Regions from separate parts of the Homo sapiens genome. Here regions 1, 2, 4, 5 and 6 are each reported to be linked to region 3. Evidence: microRNA targets listed by miRTarBase, many of them from high-throughput screens and not tested one by one. Region 3 holds a microRNA gene; each other region holds the end of a gene's coding sequence.
The links. The annotated mature microRNA hsa-miR-1976 reads CCUCCUGCCCUCCUUGCUGU and lies in region 3 at 1,505-1,524, opposite strand. An mRNA with a match to its seed (bases 2 to 7 or 8) in the 3' UTR can be bound and repressed. Matches are read on the target gene's strand: a 7mer-m8 pairs with bases 2 to 8, a 7mer-A1 pairs with bases 2 to 7 and ends in A, and an 8mer does both.

Region 1: the mRNA of UBN2 is a reported target of hsa-miR-1976. Seed matches in the 3' UTR shown: 7mer-m8 at 1,050-1,056.
Region 2: miRTarBase lists PIWIL1 as a target of hsa-miR-1976. Seed matches in the 3' UTR shown: 7mer-A1 at 4,516-4,522 and 8mer at 4,121-4,128.
Region 4: the mRNA of AP1S3 is a reported target of hsa-miR-1976. Seed matches in the 3' UTR shown: 8mer at 3,160-3,167, 8mer at 2,625-2,632 and 8mer at 1,537-1,544.
Region 5: miRTarBase lists SSPN as a target of hsa-miR-1976. Seed matches in the 3' UTR shown: 7mer-m8 at 1,211-1,217, 7mer-A1 at 3,004-3,010 and 7mer-A1 at 3,442-3,448.
Region 6: miRTarBase lists SPTY2D1 as a target of hsa-miR-1976. Seed matches in the 3' UTR shown: 8mer at 2,019-2,026 and 8mer at 1,795-1,802.

What each region holds. Positions count from the first base shown.
Region 1 is chr7:139,296,962-139,302,390 of GRCh38, forward strand. It overlaps UBN2 (ubinuclein 2), which reads left to right. Exons shown (of 18, transcript NM_173569.4): 18 at 826-5,429. The coding sequence ends at 875. Among named protein-coding and RNA genes, the nearest start is that of TRR-CCT4-1, 41 kb to the right of the region's middle.
Region 2 is chr12:130,371,251-130,376,629 of GRCh38, reverse strand. PIWIL1 (piwi like RNA-mediated gene silencing 1) reads right to left here. Exons shown (of 21, transcript NM_004764.5): 20 at 5,307-5,379; 21 at 3,993-5,148. The coding sequence ends at 5,032. Among named protein-coding and RNA genes, the nearest start is that of PIWIL1, 36 kb to the right of the region's middle.
Region 3 is chr1:26,550,717-26,556,097 of GRCh38, reverse strand. MIR1976 (microRNA 1976) reads right to left here and starts at 1,556; the gene lies at 1,505-1,556. RPS6KA1 (ribosomal protein S6 kinase A1) reads right to left here. Exons shown (of 22, transcript NM_002953.4): 5 at 4,621-4,701; 6 at 4,375-4,454; 7 at 2,601-2,707; 8 at 1,847-1,884; 9 at 1,360-1,502; 10 at 877-947; 11 at 473-561.
Region 4 is chr2:223,754,101-223,759,529 of GRCh38, forward strand. AP1S3 (adaptor related protein complex 1 subunit sigma 3) reads right to left here. Exons shown (of 5, transcript NM_001039569.2): 5 at 1,226-4,650. The coding sequence ends at 4,615. Among named protein-coding and RNA genes, the nearest start is that of AP1S3, 81 kb to the right of the region's middle.
Region 5 is chr12:26,230,323-26,235,704 of GRCh38, forward strand. It overlaps SSPN (sarcospan), which reads left to right. Exons shown (of 3, transcript NM_005086.5): 3 at 389-4,455. The coding sequence ends at 754. The region is part of intron 1 of SSPN-AS1 (SSPN antisense RNA 1); the gene reads right to left. Among named protein-coding and RNA genes, the nearest start is that of SSPN, 37 kb to the left of the region's middle.
Region 6 is chr11:18,604,949-18,610,377 of GRCh38, forward strand. It overlaps SPTY2D1 (SPT2 chromatin protein domain containing 1), which reads right to left. Exons shown (of 6, transcript NM_194285.3): 6 at 1,455-5,006. The coding sequence ends at 4,913. It also overlaps a transcript of MISFA not described here. Among named protein-coding and RNA genes, the nearest start is that of MISFA, 7.9 kb to the left of the region's middle. RefSeq lists a silencer at 3,494-3,788.

The DNA.
Region 1 (5,429 bases), not on the chromosome of region 3:
AGGCAGGGTGGATCATGAGGTCAGGAGTTTGAGACCACCCTGACCAACATGGTGAAACCCTGTCTCTACTAAAAATACAAAAATTAGCCGGGCATGGTGGTGTGCGCCTGTAATCCCAGCTACTCGGGAGGCTGAGACAGGAGAATTGCTTGAACCTGGGAGGCAGAGGTTGCAGTGAGCTGAGATCGCGCCATTGCACTCCAGCCTGGGCGACAGAGCGAGACTCCGTCTCAAAAAAAAAAAAAAAAAAGGAAAGAGCCTTGTCCCAGTAGCAGACTTTCCTGTCACTTAAAGCTAGGTTAGAATGAGCACACACTCAGCTGGATGTTTTTCACTACAGATGAAAAGTTTGCTACGTTTGTTTACACAAATAATCAGGAATTATGAAATGCTGTGTCCTGGCAAGAAATTTTATTTCACTTACAAAAAAAAAAAAATGAAATTGACCTGTCTTCCAAAGGAGTTGAAAGATGTAGTGGGTCCCTCGGAGGTAGGAATTGTGTCTTCTGGTTCCTTTATAACCCTCTCACAGCATTTGACACAATTGGCTGGGACGTAAATGATAAATACTTGTTGAAATCATATTTAAAAAACACTGAAAACCACAGTCATTTGAGAGAAGAGGATCATTGTTGTTGAGTTTTTATCTCCATGATGTTTTATCAACCTCTATAATGCTATATGGCATGCAAGATATTAAAAGTGATATCTTTTCAGAGATGTCATCCACAAAAGATAAAAGTTAATTGTTGTTTTTGCTTTGTTTTTGTTAGCTGGTTTTTGTAACATATGGACCCATACCAATTTAACGTCTCTTTTTCTCAGATGGAGGCCAAAGTAAAGGGGACACTAAATTACCACGGAAATCTCAGTGACTGCCCAGCAAGCAAAGGAGACGAAATGTTTAGTTGACTGATGGAATCTACCTGATGGGAAAGTACTTATGTGGTCATAGGGCTGCTGTTTCTGTCGATGTTTACATTCTCTCGTCCCAAGCACTGTGGTGAGGAGGAAAAAGAAAAGAAAACATTACTTGAGCAAAGCCAGGTGCAGGAGGAAGAAATGCTTTTGTGCAAAGTTAGTGACCTTTGGTCTCTTCTAAAGAATGACAGAGTTACCGTATTAACAGACTTGAAAGAGACTCAGTTGTCAAACCCACAGAAATACAAATTTGATTTTTCCCGGGGGAGGAAGAAGGAAGTGAAGAGAATTTGGGTAAACTCCATCCATCCTGGGGGTTGGATCTGAACACTTACAGACATAATTGGTAATAAAAGGCATTAAAAACTGGAATTAGGCCAGTTTGTCAGGAATAATGATCATGTCTATTTGAATGGACTGTGTAGCAGATTTGCCACAAAAAGAAATAATAATGATTCTATCTCCGATAGACAGTAGCTGCATAGCACACCCTCGAAAATCCTGAACAAACTTGAATCTCCTCCAGTGTGTAGCAACTTCCCTCAATCAGTGGACTAAAGATCCTTCAGGAAAGTTATTTTAGCACAGTGATATATATTATTAAATCATCTAGATTTTTAAAAATCAGGAAGTTGAGCCTGTTGCTCTTAAGAGATGAAACCTAGATGTCCCCTTTTTGTAAAAGGGTCAATTTCATCTTCCGTTCAGAAGCAGGTACTTAACTCTTTTCTTCAGGTGATTTGTGCATCTAGTATTGACTGGTTAATTCTTATTTCCATTCTTGATGTTAAAATGTGACTGTGTTCACATTTTTCTCCTGAGAAATGGGGATCTTTACAGGGTTATTGCTTTGCTGCTTTTAGCCCTTGCAGCAACATAAACTCTAAGTTTCCCCAGTTCATCTAACTTCACAACTTCTCCTTCTGTTCTTTTAGCTAGTGGTCCTTCAGGTGATTATTAGCTATTGGTATAAACAGGTAGAAGTGTACACTATGTTTCTTCATTGGTCATTCAAATGGCATGAATATAGTTTTTGAATTTTTAAGATGGTATTTTAAAGGGAGGAATCACATTAGGATCACAATCACGACATATTTTTACTCCCTGTATCCAGTGTAGTGAAATTGTTTGGAGCATTTGAGATCCTAAAGCTTCACTATTTACTCAGTGTATTGGTATGTGAGTAAATCTGCAGAAAATAAGACTCCTTAGTTATTATAGCTTCCTTATGCAAATAGCATATTCAACAAAGGATGTTAAGGGAAAAATTTATGGTTCTCCTTGGATACATTTGATTTGATGGGTTTTTTTGCCGCATTATTCTAGTTTTTTAAGCTTCTGAATATTTTCATACTATATCAGAGAATGGTGTAAACTCTAAATGGTATAAGCTTCATCCATTTATAATGACACTAACCTAAAAAAAATAGACTGGTAGTGACAAGATTTATTGCATATGTGTTTATTATACATTACCCTATACCATTAGATTTACTCAATTAAGAGTATTAACCAGGCCCTTTTTTCTTTTATACACAAAAGTCCCAGATACCCTACAGGACTGTGAATAAATAACCACAGATCGGTTCAGATCTGTATGCCTATATTTTGACTTCAAAGTCACATTGGCTTGCTTCATAGCGAAAAAGTTAATAAATAACTGAAAACTTTAGTTCCAAGAACTTGTTACAGTAAAGGGAAAGGATTATTTCAAAGGAATCACTGATATAATTTCTTGACTCTAAGAATTTAGTTTATCAATAAAACAAATATGGATGTAGTATGAACCCCAGTAGATATTTTGGAAGGATACTGGGAGGATGTTGCAGAGAGGTTTGACTTGAATTCAGTATGTTTGATGAAGATTTGCTTGGTTTCAATTAAGGAAGCTTGCCCAATTTTTTTAATTTTTTCAAATGTAGTGGACCTCTTGCTTTTACGAAATATGAATAAAAAGGTCTTTGCTTCATACTAGGGGAAGTGATGGGATTTTCCTTTGGGAAGGTAGCCTTTGTTTTACTTCTCATACCACAAGAGAAGTCGAAGTGCGTATTAATTTCTCTTCCTGAATACTTGTATATATGTTTGTCTGTATGTATATATACATACACACATACATTCATATAAATGACTAGTTTGAGTCAAAAAATCATTTGAATTTCTTAAAACCATCAATTCTGAATCATGCCATATGAAGATCCCTGGTGACTGTCATCATTAGAAAAGAACAAGATAATCAGTTCTTTTCCCTGTAACATTTTATACTAACCAGTAAAAATATCTGAAGGCCCTTGGCTCCAAGAATACAATGTGGAGATTCTTCTGTGTTCTCTTTAGTCTTGATTCCTTGAGGACTACTGTCAGATCCCTACCTTAAACCCCCACCTGCACTGACGACTTACATTCATTTCAGTCAGGACCCCCCTTTTATGTTGTATGAATCAGTCAAACATCGTTGTATTTCTGTATAGATAAAGTATGATCAGAGAGTTTCTACATGTAAATAGTAATCTATTTCTTTCCTAGATCATAACATTGAAAAAGGTGCCCATACTTTATGGTCACCTGTCTTTACCGTTTTTATTACTAAAAACAAACATATAAATTGGTTATTTTTTAGCACAGAGACTTGTGACTCATACTGTATTTTTGCACTTAAAAATCAAATTATGTTATTTTTTAAAATGGTGAGTCATTGGAAAGGATATCTATAGAGCAACGTGTATTTCTGAAGAGCATTAGCAACATCCAAATGCAAAAATAATCAGCACACATGATTATATCCCACTCCTTGGGATTCTTGATTCAGGAAGATTAAGCTGTTTGTTTTCAACTGTTTTATATTTTAAATTGCCTTCACTGATATATAAGCTGTTACTGTACATACAAGTTAATCCTCAGTATTCACAAGCAATAACAGTCAGCAGGGTTGTCCTCGGAGATAGCTGTGCTGAGCCTCAGTTGGAGACTGGGAGCAAAGTGTCAAGCTCATTCAGAGCATCCAGAATAAATGCAAGCAATAATTTCCATTATAATTCAATTATAATTCTTGTATGCTTTTGAGGTCAGAGGGTAAATGAAATCGTGATTTTAAAACAGCCTGAAGAAAAAGGTTTTGGGAAAGGAAATGAGGCTAATCTGTAGTCATAAAATTCTGATACTTTGCGGAAATTAGAAGATGGTGATAGTGCATTCTTTTGTGCCCACCCCCCCTCTGATGGATGTTGTTAGCCCAAATTACATTTTTCATATCATGGACATTGAATAGGGTTTATTGAATCAGGAAGGTAAGGGGAAGAACCGGGCACATATGTGTTGGAATACTGTGGGTTTGACACCTGGTTGAAAACAACTTATTGGACATGATTTTTAACCCAGGATATTTTTTTCCCAAAGCAGATCTAAATTGTTTACTACCCAGGGTTGGAAAGGGCAGGCACCTCTAATCTAGTCTTTGTCCTCTGGTTGCCCTCTCCCACACCCCTTTCCACCTATACTTGGTTCAAGACATTTTCTGAAACGAAAATTCTGCTGTTGTTCAAACTGCCATTGGTTATGAGAACTCTGCGTCCTTTGGGATCATCTCTTAGAACTCCAGTGATCTATCATATTTGCTGCTACATTTGTAAAATGAACTTTGCCTGTATTGGTTGACTTTAATTTACAGTTCTTTATTTCTAGGATGTTTTGTCCTCTAGTTTGACTCATGTATAGAATTAGGATACTTTATTTTAGGAGTGTACCGTAAAAGCACACTGGTCCCTTTGTTGTTTTTATTATTTAGGTTTGGAATTTGTTTGCTTTTTTTTTGTTTGTTTTTTGTTTTGTTTCTGTTTTTGTTTTTTTTTAAAGTTGGAAATAGAAGAATGAGAAAAATCTATAATCAGGCCAAACTTGAGAACTTTCCTGTGCTTCAGCACTGTAATTCTGCTGACCTAATGTTCTCAAAAGAGGCACTTTTACTTTCTATTGTGCATGTATGATTGTTGTTTTTTGCTTTTGAGGGGGCTTTTGTGTTTGTAATAATGAAGCAGAAGAAAAGTGCAGTAGTAGATAAATGATCACAACATGTTATGCAATTTTATTTTATAAAATTTTAAGGGGAAAAGTTTAACTCTTTGTAAATCATTTCTTAGCTCTGGTAAAATGCTTATATTACTCCTCTAAAACATGCTCAATTCAGGCCTTTGTCTTTGTTAAGTGCCTTTTTTCTTTCTTTTTTCCTCTCTTTTGAAACTGTTGTCACATTATCTTAAAGTACAGACTGATAAGTCAGGGGATTCAGGAGGAAGAATCTCACACTTGTCAACATCATGTCATGCTGTGTAACCCTCTTCCTTTGCTTTCTATGTATATGGATATATGTGTAAGATACATACATTACATATATATAAAACTAGGAGCTGCTGTACCATTGCATCCTTTCCAAACACTCCCCTTTCCATGTTTGCAAAACTTCTGCCTTGTTTATTCCATTGCTTTTAGTTGATTAAAGTGGGTGGATTAGA
Region 2 (5,379 bases), not on the chromosome of region 3:
GATGGCTCCCAGGTTTCTGGCCTGAATGAACATTTGGAAGGATGAAGTCCTGATTTACGGAGCTGGAACAGGGCTTCAAGAAATCACAGTTTAACTTTGAGCATACTGAAACACCAGTTCAACCAGAGGTTGTCAAATGCGGTCTGGAGGCCCCTGGAAATCTCAGACTCCTTTGGAGTTCTGCGAAATCAAAATTATCTGTATGATACTGAGAGGTCACTTTTCCTTTGCACTCTAACGCGCCCTCAGGCATATACAGTGTTTTCCAGAGGCTACACGTCATGTGCTGACAGTATCATTCTGACAATGGAATATGGGCACGCATATTTTTAGATGTTTTAATTTTTAATATGGTAATTATCAACAGATATAATTCACATAAACAAAATCTCTGTGTCCTCAGTAATTGAAGAGTGTCAGGCAGTTCCGAGACCAAGAAGTCTGAGCAGCATTGTGTTGGACAGCCTAAGGGAGACGTCTAGGAGACAGCTGATGATGTGAGTGTGGAGTTCAGGGAGGAAACTGGGCCTGGAGATGTGGTCTGGGAAGCATCTTCATACAAATGAGTCATGGGTGAAATCACCAACAGAGGAAGAGCAGAAAGAAAGGGGATCCTGGCAGAGTCTGAAGGCACATTTAGGCCTTAGAGACAAGAACCAGCAAGAGACTGAGAAGGAACAGTCAGGTGTGGGGAGCCAAGAGAGCATGGCATCGTGGAAGCCAGGCAGAGCATGTTTCCAGGAGAAAGGGGACACCATGCCAGGCGTGCAGCAGGTCTGGCTGGAGGATGGCCAGGAATTGAACAGCTGGCACTGGATTCAAGAGAGGATGGGGAGGAAAGAAGTCCAGACAACACAGGAGTTTTGAGGGAAAGAGAGAAATGGAACAGTAGTTAAGGGTCAATGGGGCCCAAAAGGCTTTTATTTTTTAACATAAAAAAAAAATGACACCAGTTTTGCAAGCTGTTGGGAATGAATAGGAAAAGAAAAATACTAAAGCAGGGAAACAAGGAGAGACGAGATTCCAAAACAACATCCTCCAAAAATGAATGTCTTGTGCCCAAGCAGGTGGGGTGTGCTCTGGCCGAGTGCACAGACCGTGCGTGCCGCCACAACACCGGGCTGCAGAGCAAACGCGGTTCAGGTGGGAGCTTGTGAAGCTCTGCCTGGATTTTTAGCAAAATAGACAGTAGTTGAGAATGCGGATGGAGGTGGTGGTGGTGGTGGTGTAAGGAGACAAGGTATGAAAAACATCAGAGAGCTGTGGAGCCAATGGCTAGACATACATGTATTGACAGCATTAAATACCTGCTTGTGATCATGAATTGAAATACAACAATTACACAGGGTTGCGTGCTTTTCTCCAGCCGTGTTTATTTGCAAAGGAACAGGCAAGTAGGCAAAAAGCTGGACTTCACCGGTGTGTTTTAGCCAAGAATTAGAAGGAAAGCACCACAGGACAATGTGAGCAAGCCAGGAGCTACCATCTGCAAGGAGGAATCGGAGCTCGGGGAGCATAAAGTGGCAAAGGGAGGGGGAGCGGCTGACATGATCTGATCAAAGTAGATTCAAAGCCGAGTGGTTTCTTTTTTGCGGGGGTCGGGGTGTCTGGAAATATCAGTGAGGAGCAAGAGGGACACCTACCTCACCCTCCAGACCTTGGCAGACGAGAAGTGTAGGAGAGACAACAGCAGCACTGTGAGTGACCCGGGAGAAAGCCGAGTTTGTTAAAGGGAGATGTAAAGAAACCGCCCCTAAGAGGCTGTTGAGAATGAGCTCCAGAGGACACAGGAAAAGTTGAGGAGCAGGGGATGGTGTCAAAAAAGAGACTGCAAAGAGCTCCTCAGAGATGAGCCTGAAATACGAGGGATCACCTGGAGCTTTGGGCTTGTGGGAAGAGCCCAGGGATGGGGCATGCCACTGGTCGTGGGGTTCCCAGGCATGAGAGTGGGAAGGCTGCGATGGACGAGGGCAGAGCGCTGGACTCCGCAGTGCAGAGTTCTAGGTGCCCACTTGAGTTCTGGCAGCACAGGGTGCTTGAAGGGCAGCTTAACTCAGAGTGTAGAGGCCATGGAGCCTCCTTTGAATGGTGGCCTAGAGAGAAGAGTCATCTTACTCCAAGTGCAGGGACTCCCTCCTGACTACTCTTGAAAATTTTACAGTTTCTCTATTGTACACAATGGATTTTTAAAATCATTGGGTAGTAATAATGAAGGTAAAGAAAATTAAACCTAGCTTTTGAAATCTTGTATCTGAATGACAATACCAATTACACAAACTTTAAGCTTTTACTTAGAAATGTACGAAATATCTGAAGACTCGTATCATAGTATCAGAATGAAACTGCTGTTGAAAATACTTTCTATTTGACTCTGAGGAGAGAGCCAGAGCCGTCACTGTGTGTAAGCAGCAGGTTCAGGAGATTACTCCAAAAAACTCCTGTAGGACTTAGGGAATGCGTGTAAAATTGCTAAATAGAATGCTTCAATGAGTGTCACATTTTTGAATTTTGAAGGAAAATGTACCCAGAAAAGAGTGGACAGACTTCCTACAGGCATGCACTTTTGGGGAACCACCCACCAAATCCCTGGGGTTCCTTCAGGAACCACCAGGTAGACTGGTCAGACGAAGCTTTGGGAAGGGACAGCCTGAGGTCAGTGTGTTTAACACTAAAGCTTTTGGACATCCCACTCAGATACGCACATCCCACGTGAAAGGAGAAATTGGGATTTCACGGAGTCTTTGCTTTGTTCTTTGTGAGTGCGGCAGTGAATTCTCTGACAGTGCTCCGTGTACTCGGTGTGGCTCAGACATCAACCTAGTCTCTGTCGCCGCATGCAACAGGTTTGTCTGATGAAAACCACAGCAGAGGCATAACCAAGACGATGTTAAGGAGACCCCTTTCAACTAGCATTTGCCAAAAGTCCCTGGCAAATCACCTGGGACTTGTTTAATAGACTGTTCACCTGGCCTCTCCCCTGAGAGTCCCGATTCCTAGGTACAGTTTGGAACCCAGTCTGTGTTATCACAAACCCAACCAGGTGATGTCTAACAGATTAGTAAATTTGGGAAGTGTTACCTAGGATGATGACAAAACCAAGCAATACCCTTTTTTGGCTTAAAATAACTTCAGCCAGTTTTCTGTCCCTTTCAACTAAGTCTTTCTTGATATAGTGGGGTCTCTGGACACCTGCAACTTTTCCACAATTATCACATTTACCAATTTTTCACGGTTCTAAAGACATTAAATTCAACTTTCACTTTGAGGCAGAGCTGAGACCTGCTAAGAATGAGCTTTTCATGACTTAACTAACTGACTAGCCACCAAAATCCATAAATAAATTAATATTTTCCAGTCGTATGATTAGACTTCCTTATATTCCTTAATGCTAGGACAACCTTAAGCAACTTCTACCATTGAAATGTTTGTCTCTGGCCTCCTTTTGAAGGTCACACTGTTCTGTGTTTCTTGTCTTCTCATGCTTAGAAATCGAACAGGTTAAGGAACCTGGGCTGCTTGCCCAGAACAATGTTAACAACAATTATTAGCTCTAAGAACTAAAAGGAAAATAAAATGGTTTTCATTCATAATATGTTAATGAGGCTAAATTCAGAATGAGACCGTGTGCCACAAAGGTAAGACAAATGACTTGAGTGATCTGCGTTAGTTTAAATTACAGTTCCAGGGACTTGTGTATTGTCATTAAAGCTTACACTCATCACATTTGTAAGCAATGTTTAAAGGTGTTCCCGGGATTTACAATAATTCATTAATTTTAAGCCTTCTCTTTGCAAACGTTCCTGAGAATTCCTATAAATATGTAGATATAAAAAACTACAATTACCAACTTCACAACACCACAGACTTCTTAGTCTGTGCTTCCTTATAAGCTGTGGATACCCGTTCTTATACTACAAATATTGGAGGTGGCAGCATTTCCTTAAAAAATTTTACTCTGACATTAGAGTTCGTAAGAGACACTAATTGAGCTTTTTTTTTTTTTTTTTTTTTTTTTTTTTTTTTTTTTTTTTTGAGACGGAGTCTCACTCTGTTGCCCAGGCTGGAGTGCAGTGGCGTGATCTCTGCTCACTGCAACCTCCGCCTCTCAGGTTCAAGTGATTCTCCTGCCTCAGCCTCCTGGCACCACATCTGGCTAATTTTGTATTTTTAGTAGAGATGGGGTTTCACCATGTTGGTCAGGCTAATTTAGCTTTTATGAATGGAATTGTATGCACTTTTAAAAATTAAATGAAAAGAAAACGCACATACTTTCAGTAAAACAAGAATTACAGTTATTCAAATAAGGTGACAATCACATCAATTTTATTTTATAACAAATAGAATCATGTCCCAGTTCCAAAACAAAATAAATAGTAATGTTAATATAGAGATTTACTCATGGCCTTTTTTGTTAAAGAGTCTTAAAATGTTTCTTTGGACAATTTAAAAATTTTCAATGTTTTTTTTACTCCCATACAACCTAGCCCCCCTGCCAAATAAAAATCAAGCATATTTTCTCCTGTATCTTGTGTATAGGTTATATAATAGTACCTTTTATCTTTAAGATATGAGCTGAAACCCCACCTATGGTTGTAGTGAGCATCCTACTTTACGCCTCTTATCTCCTTTAAATTCAAAACAGGTATCTCAAAAATAAAGTTAATATAGGTTTATAAGTAGGACTTGCTCACTCCTGAAAGTACGTTTAAGTAAATCTCCAAACACATTTCAAATACTCTCAGAGAGTCTGTTTTATACTACCAAGTATCTTATCCACATTTCTTCAAAATAAACAAAAAAATGCTCACAAAATATCTATGAGAAACAAGAAGATAAAATATAAAATCTTAATTTTTACGTATAAAATAAGGAAGCCGGTGAATAGCAATGCTAGAAATAAAATGCTAGATCTCCTAATCCCCTTCCCAAGTTTCATCCAGAAAGATAACAGTTAAAAAAAAAGTAAATAAAAGCTTAAAAAAATCCCAAAGTCATTTCAAAAAGAAAAGCGGCTGCATCGTCTTCTGCAGGTTAGAGGTAGTAAAGGCGGTTTGACAGTGACAGATTTGGCTCTCTGTGAATACTCTGGCCAACAAGAAAAGCCAGCTTGTGGGCGTACTGGCAAGGAGCAGGAACACGAATGACACCCTTTAGTGGAAGGAAAAAAAGGTTCTATTACTCTAGACTTAGCCTCTTTCAATTGCAAATCTCAGTATTAACCCTAAAAGCCTTTTAAACCACAGCTATTTCATTTTGAAAAGTGAATGTCCTTTATTTGCTAAACATCAACAAGTAGAAGCACTTACTGGCCAGTTGTAATAGATGTGGCACAGCTTGTAGGTCAAGCGCTGTATGTGGTCTGGCTTCAGGCCGCTGTTG
Region 3 (5,381 bases):
ATCTCCCATTGAGACGAGGAACCTGCGGTGCAGAGAGGTGAAGTCACCTGCCTGGGGTCACTTAGTTCATAAGTGGCCTCATTCGTTTAACAAATATTTATAGAGGGACTGTTTTGTGCCAGGCAGTGGGGACCTGACACAGAGCCGGGATTGGGACCTATGCCTTCTGACTCCTGAGCTCATGCTATTTCTCTTGTGCCAGCAGCCTTGGCGGAGAAGCTGTGTGGGGGCCTCTGTCCTTGTCCCCAGAGGGAGTAGGGATGACTCAGTTCCTGCCTTCCCCCTACACACAGGTCAACTCCCCCCTCCACAACACCACACATGGAGCCAGAAAGCAGGGTGGCCCGCGGCATTGTCTGCCCACACAAAGGACAACGGCCCCTTTCAGCCCAGATGTGGCCCTGTGGCCTAGGCTGCAGCTGTACCCGGCTCCCCATCGCCACATCCCCTCCCCTGAGCTGGGGCTGCTTACCGAGCCGGTTGGCAGGATTCCGCTTGAACAGGGCCCGCAAGAGGCTCTGGGCTTCAGTGCTCAGAAACTGGGGCATGCCTAGCTTCGCCCTGAAACAGCCCCCGGGACTCATCAAGGCTGAGCCCTGCCCCAGAGGCCCCATCTCCCCCGGCCCCTGTCCAGATCTAGTTCCCAGCTCAGTCTAGACAAGCCATCCACTAATTCACTTCCCAAAGGCTTCAGGGATCCTACCCACAGGCCCCCAGGGATGAAAGAGGGGCTCTGGAAGGTATAATGTTTAACCCAGAGGAGAGTCTCATTAGAGAGGGTAGCTGAGGCAGGGACAGGGTAATAATATTCTGACCCCCAAACTGGGGCTGGGGCTTGGAGGAGTCCATTGTTATCAGGGCAGGGCTGGGGCTTACTTCAGAATCAGTGTCATGGTCTCCTTCCGGTCCTTCCCCTGGAAGGGCAGGGAGCCCGTCAGCATCTCAAACTGCAGAGGACAAGGATCTATTCAGGCTCTGATCCCTGTCTCCGACACACCTCCCGCCTCCTCCCAGTCAGACCCCTCTGCCCCAGTCCCAGGATTCTTGCTGATACATCCAAGTCAGCCTGGAGCAAGAATTATGCCCGTCCCTCTTGCCTCTGCCAACCAGACCACCAGGAGCAGCGGTGGGGGCGCGAGGCTGGGGAGAAGGCCAGCACTGGGTTAGGCGCGTCCCAGGTGGGGTCAAGCCTGGGATCCTTCCAAGGAAGAAAACTGCAGGTGCATATAGGGTGAGGCCAGCTTGGCTGTGAGAGGAGACGGGGAGAGCCCTAGAAATGATCAACCCCCTCACTGTACAGATAGGGAGACTGAGGCCAGAGGCTTGGGCTGGATCCTTTACCCCTGTCTGGGCACTCACCATCAACACCCCATAGGACCACCAGTCCGCACTATGGGAGTGGCCCTGGCGGTTGACGACCTCAGGGGCCATGTACTCCACTGTCCCGCAGAAAGAATAGGCCTTCTTCTCGTGGTCAATGGCCTCTTTGCTCAGGCCAAAGTCTACAGCAAGGAGGGCAGGAGGACACACCTTAGGACCCCTGCCTTCCTTGCTGCCACCCTTTGCACACCCAACCCCCGTGCCCAGAGGCCAGAAGGCATCACCCCCATGACACTCAGGAGGAAGCTAAGGCCCAGAGAGGTCAGGTGACTTGCTCAACGTTACACAATGAGGGGCTGGGATTCCAGCTGAGGGTGTTCCAAGTCTGAGGCCTGAGTTTTTGACCACTTCCAAGTAACTGGCACGGCTTCTCGGGAAGAATGAGCCCCCAGCACTCAGCCGAGACCTATCATGACCTTGTCCTGTCCTCCCCTGGGTCCCGAGGGGGCAGGCGCCCTCCACTCACCAGTGAGTTTGATGTGGCCCTCCTCATCCAGAAGGATGCTGTAATAGAGAAATAGTGGTCAGGGCCCCTCAGCTGTGGCCGTGTGGGTGATGGTGTTACCACAGGGCTGTGGGAGTTGGGTTCAGCCCAGAGGAGGTGCTCCACCCAATTCTCTCTGATGACTGGGCGGGTGTTGCAGGGTGGTAGCAGTACCACGCAGGGGTGTTGCCTATCTTTTTTGCTAATCCTTGAAGCAACTGTGTGAGGCAAGTACTATTAGGGCCCCGTTTTGCTAATGGGAAAACTAAGGCTCAGGGCAGTTAAGTAGCTCTACAGTCATTGAGCTAGTAAGTCTAGCTAGTAGGTGGAGACAGGATTTGAATACAGGGCTGCCTAACACTAAAGCCAGATCTTATTCCAACTCACCACCTGCCCCTGGCTCCTTAGTTATCATTTGAGGGTAGTTAGATATTAGGGAAAATTCTATAGGGCTTTATCAAGGAAAGACCTCTAAAGGTGGCATCTCAAATGTCACACTAGATTAGCAAAAAAAGACGGGCAACATTACCTGCATGCAAAGTACCTGGCCCTTGGTAATGGTAGCATTAGTGACTGGGCAGCTGGCACTACCACCCACCCCACTCACCCATCCCTCAGATTGCCCAAGAGAGGGAGACGTTTCTGGAGAAAGCCATGCCCACCCACCTCAGGATGGCCCTGTCCTAGAAGAGGCCTCCCCTGGGGAGGCTGGGGTGGGGCTGGAGGCTTCACTCACTTCTCAGGCTTGAGGTCTCTGTAAATGATACCCAGGCTGTGCAGGTGATCCAGGCCCAGAGCCAGCTCAGCCAGGTAAAACTTCACATCCTCCTCCGTGAACATCACCTGCAAAAGACAGGAGGGGCCTTCAGCAGGGACCTCCTCTTCCTTAAGAGCTGGGGCACTGGGCAGTCAGCAGCTTCCTGGTCCTGAAGAGCCACCCTGGGAGGACCCTTGGAAACCCCAGGCCATATAGCCTTCTCATCATACAAAGGATTTGAAGTATGAAATGACTAATACGCAAGCCACTCATTGTGGCACCATTCAGAAATAGAAGGGGTGGGAAACAGGCCTAGGGTCCAAGAGTAGAAGGCTGGAATCAGCCCTCTCCCCTGCATAATGGAGTGCTTTGCAGCCATGAACTGGAACAAGGAGTTTCTCCGTGTTCTGACATGGAGTGAGCTCCAAGATATACTATCTTGAAAAAAGCAAGGTACAGAACAGTGTATACAGAATAGTACTTTTTACATAAGGAAATGGGGGTAGGAATGAACATATATCGGATTTGTTTGCAAAAGAAACATGGGAAAGTTAAACAAGAAACCAATAAAAATGTTTACCTATAGATGGGAATAGAGGGGGCTGGGGTGGGAGGAAGACTTCTTCATGAATATTTTTCTTTTGAATCATGTATATTACCTATTCAAACATTAAAATCACAATTTAAGCCGGGCACGGTGGCTCACACCTATAATCCCAGCCAGCAGTTTGGGAGGCTGAGGCAGGCGGATCACCCGAGGTCAGGAGTTCGAGACCAGCCTGGCCAACATGGAGAAACCCTGTCTCTACCAAAAATACAAAAATTAACCAGGCGTGGTGGCGTGCACCTGTCATCCCAGCTACTCGGGAGGCTGAGGCAGGAGAATTGCTTGAACCCGGGAGGCGGAGGTTGCAGTGAGCTGAGACCCCACCAGTGCACTCCAGCCTGGGTGACAAGAGCAAAACTCCATCTGAAAAAAAAAAAAAAATTACAATTAAAAAAAAAAAAAGCTAGATTCTCTTTAAAGTTTGAATTGTACGAATGGTCCCATTTTCTAGCTCAAATCCTTTTTTTTTTTTTTTTTTTTTTTGAGACAGAGTCTCGCTCTGTTGCCAAGCTGGAGTGCAGTGGCGCGATCTTGGCTCACTGCAACCTCTGCCTCCTGGGTTCAAGCGATTCTTGTGCCTCCGCTTCCTGAGTAGCTGGGATTACAGGCACACTCCACCATACCCAGCTAATTTTTGTATTTTTAGTAGAGACGGGGTTTCACCATGTTGGGCAGGATGGTCTTGATCTCCTGACCTCCTGATCTGCCCACCTCGGCCTCCCAAAGTGCTGGGATAACAGGCGTGAGCCGCTGCGCCCAGCCTCAAATCCTTTTATATTGGTTCAAAATCCTTTTGGATGACATACGCAAGATGACTGCTAAAGTCTCTGGCTCTCTGGGTGACTTTGGGCTTCTCCCCTATCTTCACACCTCTGCCCAGAGCAGCCCTGGAAGAAGGCAGGTGCAGAGGTGAGAGGAACCCTTAGCTCCCTGGAGTTTCCTTGGGAGAAACTCTCAGAGACCTTGCCAGCGTATGGCCTCCATTCCAGGGTGCGTGGTATTTCCTGGGCCAGGGGCTGCTAGGCAGGCCTGGGTGGTTCCAGGTTCAAGCCATACCAAACACATTCTGTACAGGGCCCTGGGATGGGAGGACTTGTCGTCCCTCAGCTCCATCCCGGGGCCCTCTGGCAGTAGATGTCAGCTCACCTCTTTTGAGAGCCGGGTGAAGAGGTCCCCACCACGCAGGAAGTCCAGAATGAGATAGAGCTTGCCCTCGGTCTGGAAGGCTGGGAAGAGGGAGAAAGGCAATGGTAGAGTCGGCGCGGCCTTATGATCTGCTTCTCCGGCCCTGGCTCCCTTGGCCTGCCAGGCAGGCGGTGGGACAGTGTACAGACCACAGGCAAGGGCGAAGGATGGGTGGGGTAGGAGCTCAGGCAGGGCCAGAAGCTTTACCATAGTGCAGCTTCACCACGAATGGGTGATTTACATCAGCCAGGATGTCTCTCTCCATCTTGGTCCGGACGCGGTCACGTACTGGCCAGACGAGAAAGGAAGTCACCAGTAGCCTAGACACTCAACACAGCCACTCCCAAGCCCCCGCTAAGGGATCTCTTTTCCACTTGTTCCTCCAGGCCTGAGCTCCCAAAGCCCCCTCACCCAGGGCTTTGGGGACACTCAATCCTCAGGTTTCCTCCTTGCCAGTCTGTTTCTGGCTCCTTGGCTGGCTCCTTGTCCCCACCCCTCACAGCAGTGCCCACAGCTGGGGCCTTGGCACCCTGCCCATCTCTCTGGTCCCTTTTCCCACCAGACCCCATCAAGACCTGTTAATCAGCCAGTCTGAGCAACCTGCTCCCCCAGGGTTCTCTGCTTTGTCAGATCCTCAGACTTTGCCTCTGCACCTCCCCCTGGCATGCCTTCACCAGCTCTGCTTTCCATCTGGCATAAAAATTCCCAAATTCTGGTCTCGGGGCTGGTAAGAACGGCTACCTGGTGAGCTGGATCCCTGGGCCTAAAATCCCGATCTATGGGTCTGGGTGGGCACCCTTCATATTATTTATTTATTTTTTTAAATAATACAAGTTATTGGGCAGTTCTGATTCTCAGCAGGTTCTTTGACTCAGCTTAGGCCTCACCTTCTCCAGGAAGCGCTCCTTAATTTGCCAAGCTGGGTTAGGGCCTTCTGGATTCCTACAGTGCTTGTGCTTCTCCTTTGG
Region 4 (5,429 bases), not on the chromosome of region 3:
ATTAGCCAGGCATGGCAGTGCATTCCTGTAGTCTCAGCTATTTGGGAGGCTGTGGTGAGAGGATCCCTTAAGACCAGGAGTTCAAGGTTGAAGTGAGCCATGATCATGCCAGTGCTCGCCAGCCTGGTCAACAGAGCCAGACCTTGACTCAAAAAAAAAAAGGCAGCCCTAGATGTTACAGACCTTTCTGTTTTTAGCAATATGTGACAAAATAGATGATTTCTGCTTAATACCAAAGTACATGGTCTACTGGTAAACTTGTGTCAAGAGTTAAAATAAGAATTAAAAAAAAATTAATGGTTGTCCTTTGCAAATTATTGGAGAATATTTATTGGCTTGCTTTGCTCATATTCCTCAGCATCTGAATGAACTTAATCAAAAATTTTCAGGGACCATTGTGAATAAGTACATTATCAGGTAAAATTTACCAGTAAAATGTATTGATTATAACTTAGAAAGGTGAAATTAAACACAGTTCACCAATGATGTTTCGTAGGTATTATAACATGAATTCTAAAGAAGACGCTGGCTGAGCGCAGTGGCTCACGCCTGTAATCCCAGCATTTTGGGAGGTCGAGGTGGGCAGATCATTTGAGGTCAGGAGTTCAATACCAGTCTGGCCAACATGGTGAAACCCCGTCTCTACCAAAAACACAAAAATTAGCCAGGCACGTGGCGCATACCTGTAATCCCAGCTACTCGTGAGACTGAGACACAACAATCACTTGAACCCAGAGGTGGAGGTTGCAGTGAGCTGAGATCACACCACTGTACTCCAGCCTGGGCAACAGAGTGAGACTCTGTCTCAAAAAAGATTAGAACAATACATTTGACTAAAGCTTTATCATTATTTTAGGAGGTTTGATATGGAAAAAAAAGTTTGAATCAAAAATCCATTTGCTTTATCACAAAAATTGTCAACTTTACATTTGTTAATGAAAGAAAAGGAGCTGTCACTAGATTTAAAAAATGATCACATCATTAATTACGTGTAAAGAGATCAGATTACCAAAATGTAGGTGAATGATGAGAAAAGTCAGTAGGAGCAAAAGCAATAAATACTCTTCTCCCATTTGCTACCACTTACTTTTGAAGTTGCTTCTTGTTGGTAGGTACCAAGAAAATAAAGAGGTCATATTAAAGAGACATCACCAGGAATTATGAGTAGCAATTTCAAACATAAAATCTGACTTAAAAAAAAGTGTATTCATGAAAACACACCAAGTTCCTCATTAAAACATGTTAAAACATTTTATTTTGGAAGTTTTATAGAAATTTAACATTTACTGTCTTTCTCTTGGTAGTTTTATAGTAATTATATAATATAAAGAAAACACAATGACTATTTTAGCCTAGGCCCATGGAAGATGTCCCTAAAATCCCTCAAATTTACCCCACTGTGCCATATAGATATGTTTACTTACTTTCATTTTTTTTTTTTTTTTTTTGAGACAGGGTCTCACTCTGTCACCCGGGCTGGAGTACAGTGGCGTGATCTCAGCTCACTGCAACCTCTGCCTCCCGGGTTCAAGCGATTCTCCTGCCTCAGCCTCCTGAGTAGCTGGCACTACAAGCATGTGCCACCACACTTGGCTAATTTTTGAATTTTTAGTAGAGACAGGGTTTCACCATGTTGGCCAGGCTGGTCTCGAACTCCTGACCTCAGGTGATCTGCCGCCTTGACCTCCCAAAGTGCTGGGATTACAGGCGTGAGCCACCTTGCCCAGAAGAGATATATTTACTTTCTATGTGTGACACTGATTGAAGTCTGAGAAGCCCTGTCCATAACTAAAGTGTCTAATATGGAATTATCCAGAACATGTGTAGTATATTTGAATGAGGTTCAAGAGATACCTTTATCCAAATATGGTGACAAATTTCAAAAGAACCGGAAAAACTATGATGGATTTACATGAGGTCCATCTTTACAAAATTGTATTGAAAAATAAAGAATTTGGCCGGGTGCAGCGGCTCATGCCTGTAATTCCAGCACTTTGGAAGGCCAAGGCGGGCGGATCACCTGAGGTCGGCGTTCAAGACCAGCCTGACCAACATGGAGAAATCCCAACTCTACCAAAAATACAAAATTAGCCAGGCGTGGTGGCGCATGCCTATAATCCCAGCTACTCGGGAGGCTGAGGCAGGAGAATCGTTTGAACCCAGGAGACGGAGGCTGCAGTGACCTGAGATCACACCATTGCACTCTGGCCTGGGTGACAAGAAGCGAGGAAAGAAAAGAAAGAAAAGAAAAGAAAAGAGAAAAAGAAAGAAAGAAAGGAGGGAGGGAGGAAGGGAAGGAAGGAAGGGAGGGAAGGAGAGAGAGAGAAGAAGGAAGGAAGAAAGGAAGGAAAAGAAAGAAAGAAAGAAAAGAAAGAAAGAAAGAAAAAAAGAAAGAAAAAATTCTAACACATTAAAAAGTTAAACCACAAAACTGAAGGTTAGCTAAAGTAAACACAGTGGTCAATCATACATGATAAACTTCAAGCTGATGCCATAATTGTAATTACATGGTAACCTGAAGAAATATTGGATAGTAAAAGCCTAATGATTATTTTATATGCTAATCTGAGTTATTTCCTTTGAACAATGGTTATATTGAGGAATTGGTGAATTTTTCCCTTTGTTCTCCTGCTTGCTTTGCTGTTTTCCCTAAATATGTCTGCTGAGATGAACTAAAGAGAACATTTTTCCATCGAGTTCTCTAAAAATCTACCAGATGGGATCTCCTAAAGAATCCAACAGGAAACACACTCTTCTAGGAAATCACTGGAGGTCCCAAACCACTCTAATATGAATGATACCAGACCTCAAAGCTAACATTGAAAATGCACAGGTAAAACATCAAATAGCAGGCAGCAAGACAGAATACTACAAGCTTTTACTTTTTCTTTTTTTTTTTTTTTTTCTTGAGACGCAGTCTTGCTCTGTCACCCGCCTGGAGTGCACTGGTATGACCTTGGCTCACTGCAACCTCTGCCTCCTGGGTTCAAGCCATTCCCCTGCCTCAGCCCCCTGAGTAGCTGGGATTACAGGCACCTGCCACCATGCCCGGCTAATTTTTTTGTTTGTTTGAGACGAAGTCTCGCTCTGTCGCCCAGGCTGGAGTGCAGTGGCACAATCTCAGCTCACTGCAACTTCTGCCTCCCAGGTTCAAGCGATTCTCCTGCCTCAGCCTCCCAAGTAGCTGGGACTACAGGCACGCACCACCACTCCCGGCTAATTTTTGTATTTTTAATAGAGGTGGGGTTTCACCTTGTTGGCGAGGATGGTCTTGATCTCTTGACCTTGTGATCCGCCCACCTCTGCCTCCCAAAGTGCTGGAATTATAGGCATGAGCCACTGTACCCGGCCTAATTTTTGTATTTTTAGTAGAGATGGGGTTTCATCATATTGGCCAGGCTGCTCTCGAACTCCTGACCTCAAGTGATCCACCTGCCTCGGCCTCCCAAAGTGCTGGGATTACAGGTGTAAGCCACCACTCCCGGCCTACAAGCTATTTCCCTGTAATATGTCTGATCACTGTTAGGACCTGGTTATACAGAATTTTCATTCCAGGAAGCACAAATGTGATATACTTACAGTAATAATGGTCAGCAGCAAATCTTTTCTTTGGGGAGGAAAGGGTAAGAAAAGAAAAAAGAAGGAAAGGAATCTACCATATAGGCTGTGATAATCTTAAATGCTCTAAGTAAGCCATGTAATAAGTCTTCAAATGCATTAGAGATACATTAAAACATATTTGAAATGAAATTTCCAGCATCTAAGAGTGCTTGGAACGTGAATTTTAAAAAATAGTAGCAATAATTATTATTGCTATTAATTCTTATCATACTATTTTAGAATAATAAAGGAAGTCATAGATGCTGTATCTCTAGGTCTCTATAAACCTTAATAAATATATAGTTCATAGAAAACCTTATTGGAATGTCCCTTATATTCAATTAAAAGATAAATTAAAACCTCAGTCAAGATAGCAGCTTCTAAGGCATCAAAAACACTTATTAAGTTCTATACTCTTTGGTTATTTTCATAATCCCAATTCTAAAAAAAATAAATGAATTCAGCACATTAAAATCAGACATTTTGTATGTGAATTGCAGTTACAGTACTATTAAGTGTATGAAAAATGTCTAGCATTACATATAAACTCTGCACTATTAACATAATTTTGAATTATTATACAATTTAGAAAACTAAACATTTAGAAAAAGTATTAATGACATCATATATACTTTACATTCAAAATCATGGATTATTACAATATTGTGTCAAATGCAAAAAAAATTGCAGCTAATGTATCTAAACCAGCTTAAAAACATAACATGGAGTTAATACATTACAAATATTGTCTGTTGGGTTAGGTGGTAGTTACTTTAAACATTTAGAGCTACAAGTACCTATACAGTATAACACAGACACATAATTTTTTTTAATAATACAGACACATAGTAATTATAAATATGTTAAACAACTTTAACTTTGTTAGTTAACAAAGAATCCCTTTAAATTATTTTTGGCATGGTGCCTGAGGCTCCATCAAAAAACCGGATGGGAGGCGTTGCTTATTTACAGCTTCATAACATGTAGTGCTGGAGTCTTCAAGTAGATTTCCAGTTAAAATGTAGGCTTGTTCATGTATTCTTCCATTGTCTGAAAGCGAACAATAAATTAGAACAATTTTCCCTTTAAGTCACAGCCTTCCGCAGACTGTGAAATCTTCTGCATTCTTTTATTTATTTGCCATTGTTGAAAACAAGTTGTCAAAAGGATACATGGATATAAAATCTTTGCATTCTAATCAAAGTTTGAGTATAATTTGTATACACATCCATATGGGGCTGGAATTAAGTAACTTTCAACTGAGAAAAAGTTAAGCTTGATCATAAAGTGAATGTCTGATAAGAGAAATGCTTGGCCAGTGTGGTGCTCACGCCTGTAATACCAGCACTTTGGGAGGCTGAGGTGGGCAGATCACCTGAGGCCAGCCTGGCCAACATGACAAAACCCCATCTCGATGAAAAATACAAAAATTACCCGAGTGTGGTGGCATGCACCTGTATTCCCAGCTACTCGGGAAGCTGAGGCAGGAGAATTGCTTGAACCGGGAGGCGGAGGTTGAAGTGAGCCAAGATTGCACCACTGCACTCCAGCCTGGGTGACAGAGTGAGACTCCGTCTCAAAAACAAAAAAAAAAAAGAGAGAGAGAGAGAGATTGAAATGCTAAAGCAAAGTTGCCAAGATATCACTGTTGACTTAAGATAAACACGTTTGCTAAAATGATCAGGAGGACCACATCCAGGTACGTGTATTAGAGAATTCTGAATTACGTCTGTATAACATATGTATCGTTACCTATATTGTGCAGAGCATCTTTATTATACATATTGTCAAGACAAAAAAGATAAACAGACCAAAATTCTTAAGAATTT
Region 5 (5,382 bases), not on the chromosome of region 3:
TTCAGTCTTAATATCAGAAGTTCTTGAGTTCAAAATAAGCACAACATGTCATCCAGGGATGGCTAGCTTGTTTGGGATTCATCTAAACTGCTGGCAATATCTAGACAAAAACATTCCACAGTCCAGCTAATATGGTTGTCACAACTCTTGAAAAGGGCCCAACATCTGGATGGCAAGTGAAAATGTGATCAGGGTTTAAGAACTACCCACTAATAAATAAACATGGAGCTATTTCCATGTCTTGGGTGTTGTGTTTCTAAGAAGAGACAGCCTTTCCATCAGAAAATTTCTGGGAGGGAAGAAAAAGAACAGTTTTGATGAATTCGCTTTGCAAATCATCATCCAATGTTCTTTGTAACCAGAAAGGTTTTCTTCTGCTTTCTTGCAGCTGTTATACTTTCTGCTGAGTGCCCTGGGCCTGACGGTCTGTGTGCTGGCCGTGGCCTTTGCCGCCCACCACTATTCGCAGCTCACACAGTTTACCTGTGAGACCACACTCGACTCTTGCCAGTGCAAACTGCCCTCCTCGGAGCCGCTCAGCAGGACCTTTGTTTACCGGGATGTGACGGACTGTACCAGCGTCACTGGCACTTTCAAACTGTTCTTACTCATCCAGATGATTCTTAATTTGGTCTGCGGCCTTGTGTGCTTGTTGGCCTGCTTTGTGATGTGGAAACATAGGTACCAGGTCTTCTATGTGGGTGTCAGGATATGCTCCCTCACGGCTTCCGAAGGCCCCCAGCAAAAGATCTAACATTCTTGCTCAAAGTTGCGAGAGAAAGTAGCACATGGAGTAGCTGAGGTTAAACAAACAAAAAAAAATTTTAAACAAAGAAAGGAAAAAAATTGACAATAAAAGTCACTCTTCTAATTGAATATTTTTATATTTTTATGAAACAAAAGAGCATTTCTTCAGGTTTCTATTGTATTTTTTTTAACATTCTTGCAGAGAAAGCAAGATCCAAATTGATTTTGGGATATTAAAAGTTAACAGAACACTGAACAAGGAAAGAATGGCATAGATCTATCTTTACAGTCTGGAGTTAATTCCTGTTAACTCATTTTATCCATTCCTTACATAATCTTCTTTCCTGTTAGTCCAGTTTGATGGTGTGAATGGTGAATTTCAGGCCCAGTTGCTAAATTTTGTGGCATCTTCCTCTAGTCCTTCCCACCTCCAGTCATCAGCCCCACTCTGTCTTGGAGACAGGCAGGAGGTGGGGGAAGAGCTGAATCTCTTTATTTTCCCTGGTAGAGACATCTTCAAGGCATGAAATAGCTTAAAGAGCAGAGTAGAAACGGAAGAGGCTTTGCAAAAGGCTAGATAACTAACAACACCTGGGTTGGGGCGGCGGCCTCTTCTCTTCAGCTCCCTTAGCTTGGCTCCGTAAGTGGATCACTTGCCAAATGCTTTAGATGATTGCCTCTCAATAATTGAAAGGTGGTGGTAGTTGTATTCTAAATGATGTAGAAGGTTTAAAAATAATTACATTATGCTTCTATTCTATCATCTAAAACAAATCATTAAAACTAATTTCTAGCTAATTGTTAATTATAATTATGCTCAGAAGTCTATTTAATGAGCTCTGACTGTACTTACGCTGCACTGTCGGTGTTAAGAGAAATTACTCTCACAAGAGCAGAGGCCTGAAGATTCTTTCTTCTGAAAGCCAAGCACCACAAGGAAAAAAAAAATTATTAATAGCTCAGGTTAAAAACACCCATTTAAACAAAAACAAGAGCATTTGTAATAGGAAGTGTTTATACAAACAGCACATTTGTGATATGTTGAAAAGCATCTCTCTTGGCAACCAATCTATGTTTGAGGAAGATTGGGTAATGCTGATGTGTTCCATTCATGAAACTGTATTTGATACATAATCCTATTATTAATTCGTATGCTTAGTCAACCTAGGAAATCAAAATAATGTTTTGAAGTTCTTATTTGAGCAATATGGCCTTGACTTGGAGGGTAGTTTTAGTTGTTTTGTTTTTAAGTGACTGTGGTTTAAAGCACAAATGCCCCAAGGTGGGGAGACTTCTCTCTGTGATTATTGTTGCTATTAAATTCTGAACTGTATCCATATTTTAAGGAAGGAGCTAAAAATGGAAATTCATGAAACATAAATGGTATCAAGAACTTTATCAGTATGCTTTGTTGAAAGCAGAAATTAAGATAATAATTGAGTTCAATTCGCCTCTCCGCATTGCCTATTGATACACTTTACTAATCATGAAATTCTAACCTAAAAGGAAAACATTTTCCTGCTTGTCTTAGAAGAAAGTGGAATAATTCCACTGATTGTGATAATGGTTTCAATTTCTACACAATATAAATATCCAGTATAAAGGAAAGCGTTAAGTCGGTAAGCTAGAGGATTGTAAATATCTTTTATGTCCTCTAGATAAAACACCCGATTAACAGATGTTAAACCTTTTAATGTTTTGATTTGCTTTAAAAATGGCCTTCCTACACATTAGCTCCAGCTAAAAAGACACATTGGAGAGCTTAGAGGATAAGTCTCTGGAGCAGAATTTATCACACACAAAAGTTACACCAACAGAATACCAAGCAGAATGATGAGGACCTGTAAAATACCTTGTGCCCTATTAAAAAAAAAAAAAAAAAAAAAGCCAGTAACTGAATCCATTTTGATTTTTGGTTGAGTTTCCTACACAAAGAAGAAAATAACTGAGAATCTGGAATGTTGTAGTCCATCCTTTAAAGAGTAAGAAAGTAGCAGTTAATGCTAGTAACCGTGAATTAGGCACCACTGAAAGCACATCCCGAATTTCTTTAACAACAACATTTTATAGTGAACACTACAAGTTTTTATATTTAAAAATTAAGACTCTGTATATCCTTAAGGTGCTCTATGCTTTACCAGTAATTCACAGGGTATTTCAAATGGTAGAATCATTTTAGCTTCTGTGCTTCCTTTTTCTAAATAATGCAACTTGTAAGAGTTGACATTGTAATAAGCTTTATAATAGTATAACCGTCAGGAGATATATATATATATATATACACATACACACACACACACACATATATACTATACATATATAAAATGGGGATATTACTATTGTATGATTAAATCATTCTTAAGTCCCCAAGGAAAAAAAATCATAAACAAATAGAAAGAACTAAACAGAAAAGAAAGAAAGAAAAGATCCCTTTGCTATGAGCTCGCTGTATATTGATAAGTGTAAGAATTGTGTTGCATGAATAACCGCTTTGGGCTGGATTTGAAGTATTTTGATGTTGTGTTTTGCAAATATTGAAGTTACAATAATGGCAACAGAAAAGGAACAGATACACAGCTTTACACTTAGCAGAATGTTACATTTAAAATCTGACAAGGCGCCAAGATGGTGACTGTCTCCTCTAAACCACGAAAGAGTAAGATTTGTGCAACCCTCCTCCTCTTCCACCTCCTTCAGGAGAATTAAATGAATCAAGACTTTGGAAAGACGGGGAAGAGCCGGGACTTGGCAGTACTTGAAACAGGAGGAATACACCAGCCTAAATGTACAGACTTTGTAGCCGAGCCCACTCGATCGGTCTGTGCCTTCACGTGACCACCATCTGTGCCTCCCTCGCTCCATCCAAATTTGTGTAGGCTGCTCCTTGGAGCTATGCCTAAAATATAGCTACACCAGAGCCCTGGAAACTGTAGTCAAGTAACAGGCCTCACTGTTTTTTTTCTTTGGATTAAAAGTGTATATCTCTCTACTGAGGGGTTTCCAGCTTTACACTTCTATAGGTTGTTCTGACAGTGAGAACACATTATGTACATGTTTTCTATTCATGTCCAGGGCATGAGAATCTTAATATTCTTATACTTCCCTTTTTGCATGCAGTATGTCTGGAATATGTTTATAAAATTTTAGCAAGGGGTGAGATCAAGGGACAAAGGTAGAGTGGTTATTTAAAGACAATCAGAAATGAACTTAAAAGCTGCCCTGCAAAACCAATCCTTTCCTATCATGAAGAGTACCTTCATATTTTCTAGAGATTGTCTCTGAACCGTTGCTACATAGCCATAAATTTCTGTAAATCATGTTGGCTATCAGTTCTTGCTATTCTCAGAGCACTCTATCATGTTTTTAGGTGTATATTGTGTATTCAGGATAGCATTAAAAAGAACTGATGGCAAATGTATTGACTCACAGTGGAAACATTCATTTGGATGAAGAATTAGTGGTTTAGCCTTTGAAATGAATACCTTGAATCATTTCTTCTGATTTTCTAGTAGTTTATTATCTCAAATGATTATTATCCCCTTCAAAAATACTGGTCTGTACTTTGGTGTTGTGGATTCATTTTTCTGGCATTGATCAAATAGCAAATACAAAATAAAGCATTTCTACATGTTTGAGGTGGTTGTTTTTAAAGGGGATATGTGTAATGCAGATTTTCTTTATTAATAAAATTTTCATAATCTCTGAAAACACTGTTTGGACGTGCTTTAAAGTAACTTATGTTACAGATGAACTGGTACACATAAAATCTCTCAAGTTAGTGTTTATTTCAAAAATCTGTTTTTGGAAAGACAAAAACCAATATTCACTGTGACTCCTTTGTTCCAGTGACTGTCTCTGCTTTGCTACTCTGTATCCATCGTAGAAGTCAAGGTTGTAATTGTTCCCAAGGCAAAGAGAGTCTGGCTGGAAAAAGTCTTGTAAAACGTACCTGGAATGCTGATTCTTACTTTATATCTACCAATAGCAACTAAAGTTTGTCCTGAAGAATGGGATTCACAAGTCATATTCTCTATTTTATTATAAAGAAAAACAGACAGCCTTTTCCATTTCAGATCAGAACCCAAGTCTGAGGCAATTTAAACAGTTGATTATACTGTAAAATACAGTGGTTCTTTTTATGTTCTTAGTAAAGCCCAGGACTCACAAGCCCAGAACACACTCTCTGATCTAAATTTTCTTTTCTTTTCTTTTTCTTTCTTTCTTTCTTTTTTTTTTTTTTTTTTAATTATACTTTAAGTTCTGGGATACATGTGCAGAATGTTCAGGTTTGTTACATAGGTGTACACATGCCATGGTGGTTTGCTGCACCGATCAACCCGTCATCTACATTAGGTGTTTCTCTTAATGCTATCCCTCCCCTAGCCCCCCACTCCCCGACAGTCCCCGGTGTGTGATGTTCCCCTCTCTGTGTCCATGTGTTCTCATTGTTCAACTCCCATTTATTAGTGAGAACATGTGGTGTTTGGTTTTCTGTTCCTGTGTTAGTTTGCTGAGAATGATGGTTTCCAGTTTCATCCATGTCCCTGCAAAGGACATGAACTCATCCTTTTTAATGGCTGCATAGTATTCCATGGTGTCTATGTGCCACATTTGCTTTATCCAGTCTATCATTGA
Region 6 (5,429 bases), not on the chromosome of region 3:
CCCAAGAAGTTAGGCCAGGCGTGGTGGCTCACACCTGTAATCCCAGCACTTTGGGAGGCCGAGGCAGGCGGATCACTTGAGGTCAGGAGTTCGAGACCCGCTTGGCCAACATGGTGAAACCCCGTATCTACTAAAAATACAAAAATTAGCCAGGTGTGGTGGTGGGCACCAGTAATCCTAGCTACTTGGGAGGCTGAGGCAGAATTGCTTGAACCCGGGAGGTGGGGGTTACAGTGAGCCGAGATTGCACCACTGCACTCCAGCCTGGGTGACAAAGCAAGACCTTGTCTCAAAAAGAAAAAAAAAAAGAGAAAAGAAAACCCAGGAAGTTGCCTGATAATTCTTTTTCATGACTACTGAAAAGATGGGAGCCTGAGAGAGACCTAACAGGAGTAAATACTTTAAAAACAAATTGTATGGAACTGTACCCATTCTGAGGATGACTGATACAGTTCCAGTATTCAAAAGAAGTATACCTTTTCCAGCAAAGCAGATCTTTTGTTTACATAGAAAACATTTTGTTATTTGGGAAGTTTGCTTAACTATTTGTAAGTGGCTCTTTGCAATTAATGGATTACCTTTTTTTAATGGAAAGAAAATAAATTCAAAATCCATAAGCAAAACTTTAGTAATTTCTGACTCTAGGATACTAGCATCTTCTATTTCTTATGTGATTTAGACTCAACATTTTCCAGTGAGTTAAGTACTTACATCCTCTGGCTGTATAGCTCTGCCCATTTGCCTCGTAATACATTTTTTTTTGAGACAGTCTCGTTCTGTCACCCAGGATAGAGTGCAGTGGTGCAATCTCGGCTCACTGCAACCTCCACCTCCCAGGTTTAAGTGATTCTTATACCTCAGCCCCCTGAGTAGCAGGGATTACAACGCACGCCACATTTTTGTATTTTTAGTAGAGACGGAGTTTTGCCATGTTGGCCAGGCTGGTCTCGAACTCCCAGCCTCAAGTGATCCACCTGCTTCTACCTCCCAAAGTGCTGGGATTACAGGTGTGAGCCACTGTGCCCAGCCTGCCTCATATACATTTCTAAGGACTCCTCTTCTCAGCCATCTCAAGCTGCTTTTATCATAAGAGATAGGACCCTGCTCATTTTGACAAGAGGAACCATATACCCAGCTGTGTCCTCCCTCCATTTGAGTAAACTTCCAAAACTTGAGCCACTAAAAGATTCCATTGCTCTGACCACCTAACAGTTCTCCCAACATGGGTCAGAGAGCAGAACAGTTCTCTAAGCTGGTAGGGGGAGAGAAGCTCTATCATGTTAGAGCAGACATGAATGTGTAAGGGAGAATAAGCAGAGGAGTGTGTGCAATAGGCAAACCATATCTCTGAAGTGTGATGAGTATACCGAGGTTTCTAGCTGGAAAAATGTTCAGGGTGATGAGATAAAGAATATCTCAAAGTTTTAATCAATAAATGCAAACCAGCAAAAATATCAATAAAATATTTTTAATGCCTACAATTTCTTGTATACATAAATTGCAAAACTTTCACCTGTATATGCAAAAGTATATTCTCTTGCAGGTCAACAGCACCAGAAAACAAGCTAAGCTATCTAAAAATTTTTTTAACTTGATTTGTCCATTGTGTAAAAGACAGGATGGATTTAATTACTCCAAAGAAATCTCTATCTCACTCTTAATCATACACTAAACGTCTGAATATTTAATCACATCCACTCAGAAAATAAATAGTAGTCTAATATATTCAATACATTGAAAATAAAACAACCAGTCTCTCTTCATATATTTATTCTCTTTCCAAACATGTTTTGGTCTCCTGCTATATCTCAGAAATTTACCAATAGCTGCTTTTAAGTTACAAAATACAAAACAACAATTTATTTCTTGGAGAAAATCTTGGGGATTACATTAAAAATGAAAATTTGAGTTCCCACATTCTTTTTTTTTTGACATGGAGTCTCGCTCTGTCACCCAGCCTGGAGTGCAGTGGTGCTATCTTGGCTGACTGCAACCTCCGCCTCCCAGGTTCTAGCGATTCTCCTGCCTCAGCCTCCCCGGTAGCTGGGATTACAGGTGTGTGCCACCGCACCCGGCTAATTTTTTTATTTTTAGTAGAGACGGGGTCTCACACCATGTTGGCCAGGCTGGTCTCGAACTCCTGGTCTCAAGTGATCCGCCCGCCTCGGCCTCCCAAAGTGCTGGGATTACAGGCTTGAGCCACCATGCCCGGCCAGACTTACTTTTTTGTTAACGGTCTTTGAACCTTTTCACGGCACACATGTAAGGCCGCCTGTGACATGTGGTACCCTGGCCTCCAACTGGACACAACTGCATTTATAGTTTAGCGAAAATACAAAGTTCTGAAAGTAGCCTTAAAAGAAGTGCCCTTTGCTTTGACATAGCAATATCAAAAGCAAGTGGGACTGTGCAATCAGAGCCATGAGTTTTATGAAAACTACTTTCCTTTCACATCATTTGTTAGAGAATGCCACACCCATGATCATGTAACATTATTACAATCATGAAATATTACTACATTCGTGATTAACATTACCCAAAAGGCACATCTTCAAATGTTGAATTAAGAAAATCCAAAAATCAAAACAGTAGAGAATACATTAAAAATCAAGCATTTAATTTGTAAACCTTAATGAAATAACAGCCTACTCCAGTTTCTTCAAAGGTTTGTGAGCTTTTTATAAGAGTGGTCAGGAAGTGCAGAAAAACAACATGGAAGACAGGATTTGGAAACAAGGCCAAAATTTAAAAGACTTAACCTTTTTTTTCTTTTAAATGAGCCACAGAAGTGCTCTTTTATAATGTTGACGCAAATCAACATTTATATTATAGAAATGCACTCAGAAGTAACAGACACACAAGGTTAAAACCTGATTCTTCCCACTAAGTTCTGGAAATTTATTCTAACATAATGGTGCCTTTCTGTACAAAGAACTGTACCATATCATAAATTTACTGCTAGTAAACTTTAAGCCACCAGAAATCTTTCAGCTGTGACAAGCACTTGATTGTAATGACAGATTTCAGAGTCTGAATACTGAAAAATATATATATCCAATAAAAAATTTTTGAAGGGGGAATAAAAGCACATAAATGGCAGCAGAGGAATTGATGTTCTAAGCCTGTTTTATTACATGGGACATCACACTACCCTTAATTTCACTGAAGGTATCTGAAATGGGTGAGATGAAATCAATAGGATTTTCTGCTACCATTGTAACAGTTCTATATGTAGTTACAAAGGGTGTTATTCCTAGTGATGATGACACCTTTCATGGGATTCAACTTAAAAATTAAATCCTTGCACTTTCAAAGTTTGAAACTCAATTCAAAATGAGTCCGTCTTAAAAGCCTGGCTCATATGGTCCCATTAAGGGAGGCTAACAATGGTAATCTATAATACCCAAACTTGAAGAATAAAGACTTTATGGATAAAAAGGAATAAACCAAAATATTTGGGCTGTTGAAGTATAAGGGCCTGTTGTAGGACAATCCCTCCTACTTCCTAATCCCCCCCATACAATGGCTTAAGATAGCCAAAACGTTTATTGTAGAACGTTTATTATTCCTACAAGCTTATGTCTCACTTCCCCTAAGCCTCTGTACTTACAGTCAAGGACAAATGCTCTCTAGCATCATATCTCATTTTCTGTTGCTGACAGTTCTTGAGACTTGGCTTCCTTCCAGCATGATCCTAAGTCAGCCTGATTGGAACTGCTTGGACTTGAAGGTTAAGGGCTATTAAGTCCATATTTATGACTTTAAAAAGGGTAAAAATGAGTTTCCACAGCTCAGTAAAATAACGATAACAGGGAACATCCCTTCCTACCTGGGGAAAAAAATCTCTTCACAGTGCATAGTTTGAAATCAAAGTGCAATATGGGCAAAAAGAGAAGGTGGTGCTCTCGATACCATAAATTTAGTTTTTGGTTTTCTGCCATTAATATTTGCTAACAAATTCAAGCTAAAAAATGAAGTCATTAATGTCAAGAGGTATGAGGGCACCTTGGGATTTCAAAATATCTTTATGATGGGGGAGGGGAGGAGGGGAGAGCCTCACATGTTACTTCCTTATTTTATAAACTATTACTCTTTCAAATCTAATGTTTGAATAAAATATTTTTTCTTCGATATAAAAATGAATTTTTTTAGATAAAAATCAATCAGCACAGTGACCTTGTCTTACACTAAAGCCAACATAACAGTAAATCTGAAAGGAAAACTTAGAAAAGAATATTATACTGTTATAACCTGTATTTTAACTTGAAAATTTTTTCATTAATTCCTAGCCACCTAAATTAATGAGTAAGAATGCTCAGCATCCAATCCATGAATACAGAATTTATTCTACTTTGTACTTCAAAGTCACAGGATGACATCCATATGATAGTTATAAATTCTACTCTACATTTTCAAGTTCTCAATCCATAGATTAGGACAAGTCACTTTATTGCTGGCAACATTCATGGAAGGTCCAGGTTTCTCATAAAAAGACTAAGTTTGATTGGGAGCAGGGCAGTGCCCTACTCACAGATCAGCAGAAGAATTACAGAAATCAAGAGACAACCTTTTTTTTCCTTTCAAAGTAGCAAAGGAACAATAAAAGATTGGCTGACTGGTGAGTGGCCCCACATTAGAGTGCATAGCTCATCAGGATCAAGGCTGGCATCTGTGAACAGTTAACTTCATAAGAGCACAAGTGGGCATTATATCATCTGCATTACAGATTTCACCCTGGAAAATATCTGAAAATATTTTATGCTCAAATGACAGCCTGCAAATGACAGTATGCATTCCTTCTCCTTGAGTACCCAAGTATAAATCTAAAATGATAAGGGGGCTTCTTCAGTCTGAAGGCAGGAAATCCTTGCAGCAGAGCAGCTCTAGAATTTCACAAAAATAAAAGCAGCAGCTAACGCCTCTTCAGCTTCTTGGCCCTTCGACGTTGCATTTCTTCTTCTTCACGTCTCATTTCCTCTAAGTCCTCTTGCATACCCAGTCTTAAGCTGCCAAAGAATTTTTAAAGGGTATTTGTCAATATACATGAGATGACCACTTTCCTTAAAAAGAATGAAAATTCCAACTGGGAGCTCACATGGATTGTGCTGATGCTCTCAAAATGCCTCAAGGCTTTACCACTGAAAACAAACTAGCAGGGATATTTTTTTACCAGGGGCCACAGACTCAAATTGTCGTGGGAAAAAGAACTCACACACCACAAAAACCTTACTATTTCCATTAAAATAATAAAATATAGGTTTATCTCAATAGCTTTTAAAAATAAACAGCAAGAAGCATTTATTCATTAACTAACATTCTATTCTTGTTCTCTTCCAACACTTTAGTTTGAAATTTTATGGGCAAGAGGGAGAAAAAGATATAGTATTCTGGCTTGAGACTGAAGTGAATTATTTACCTATAATAACATT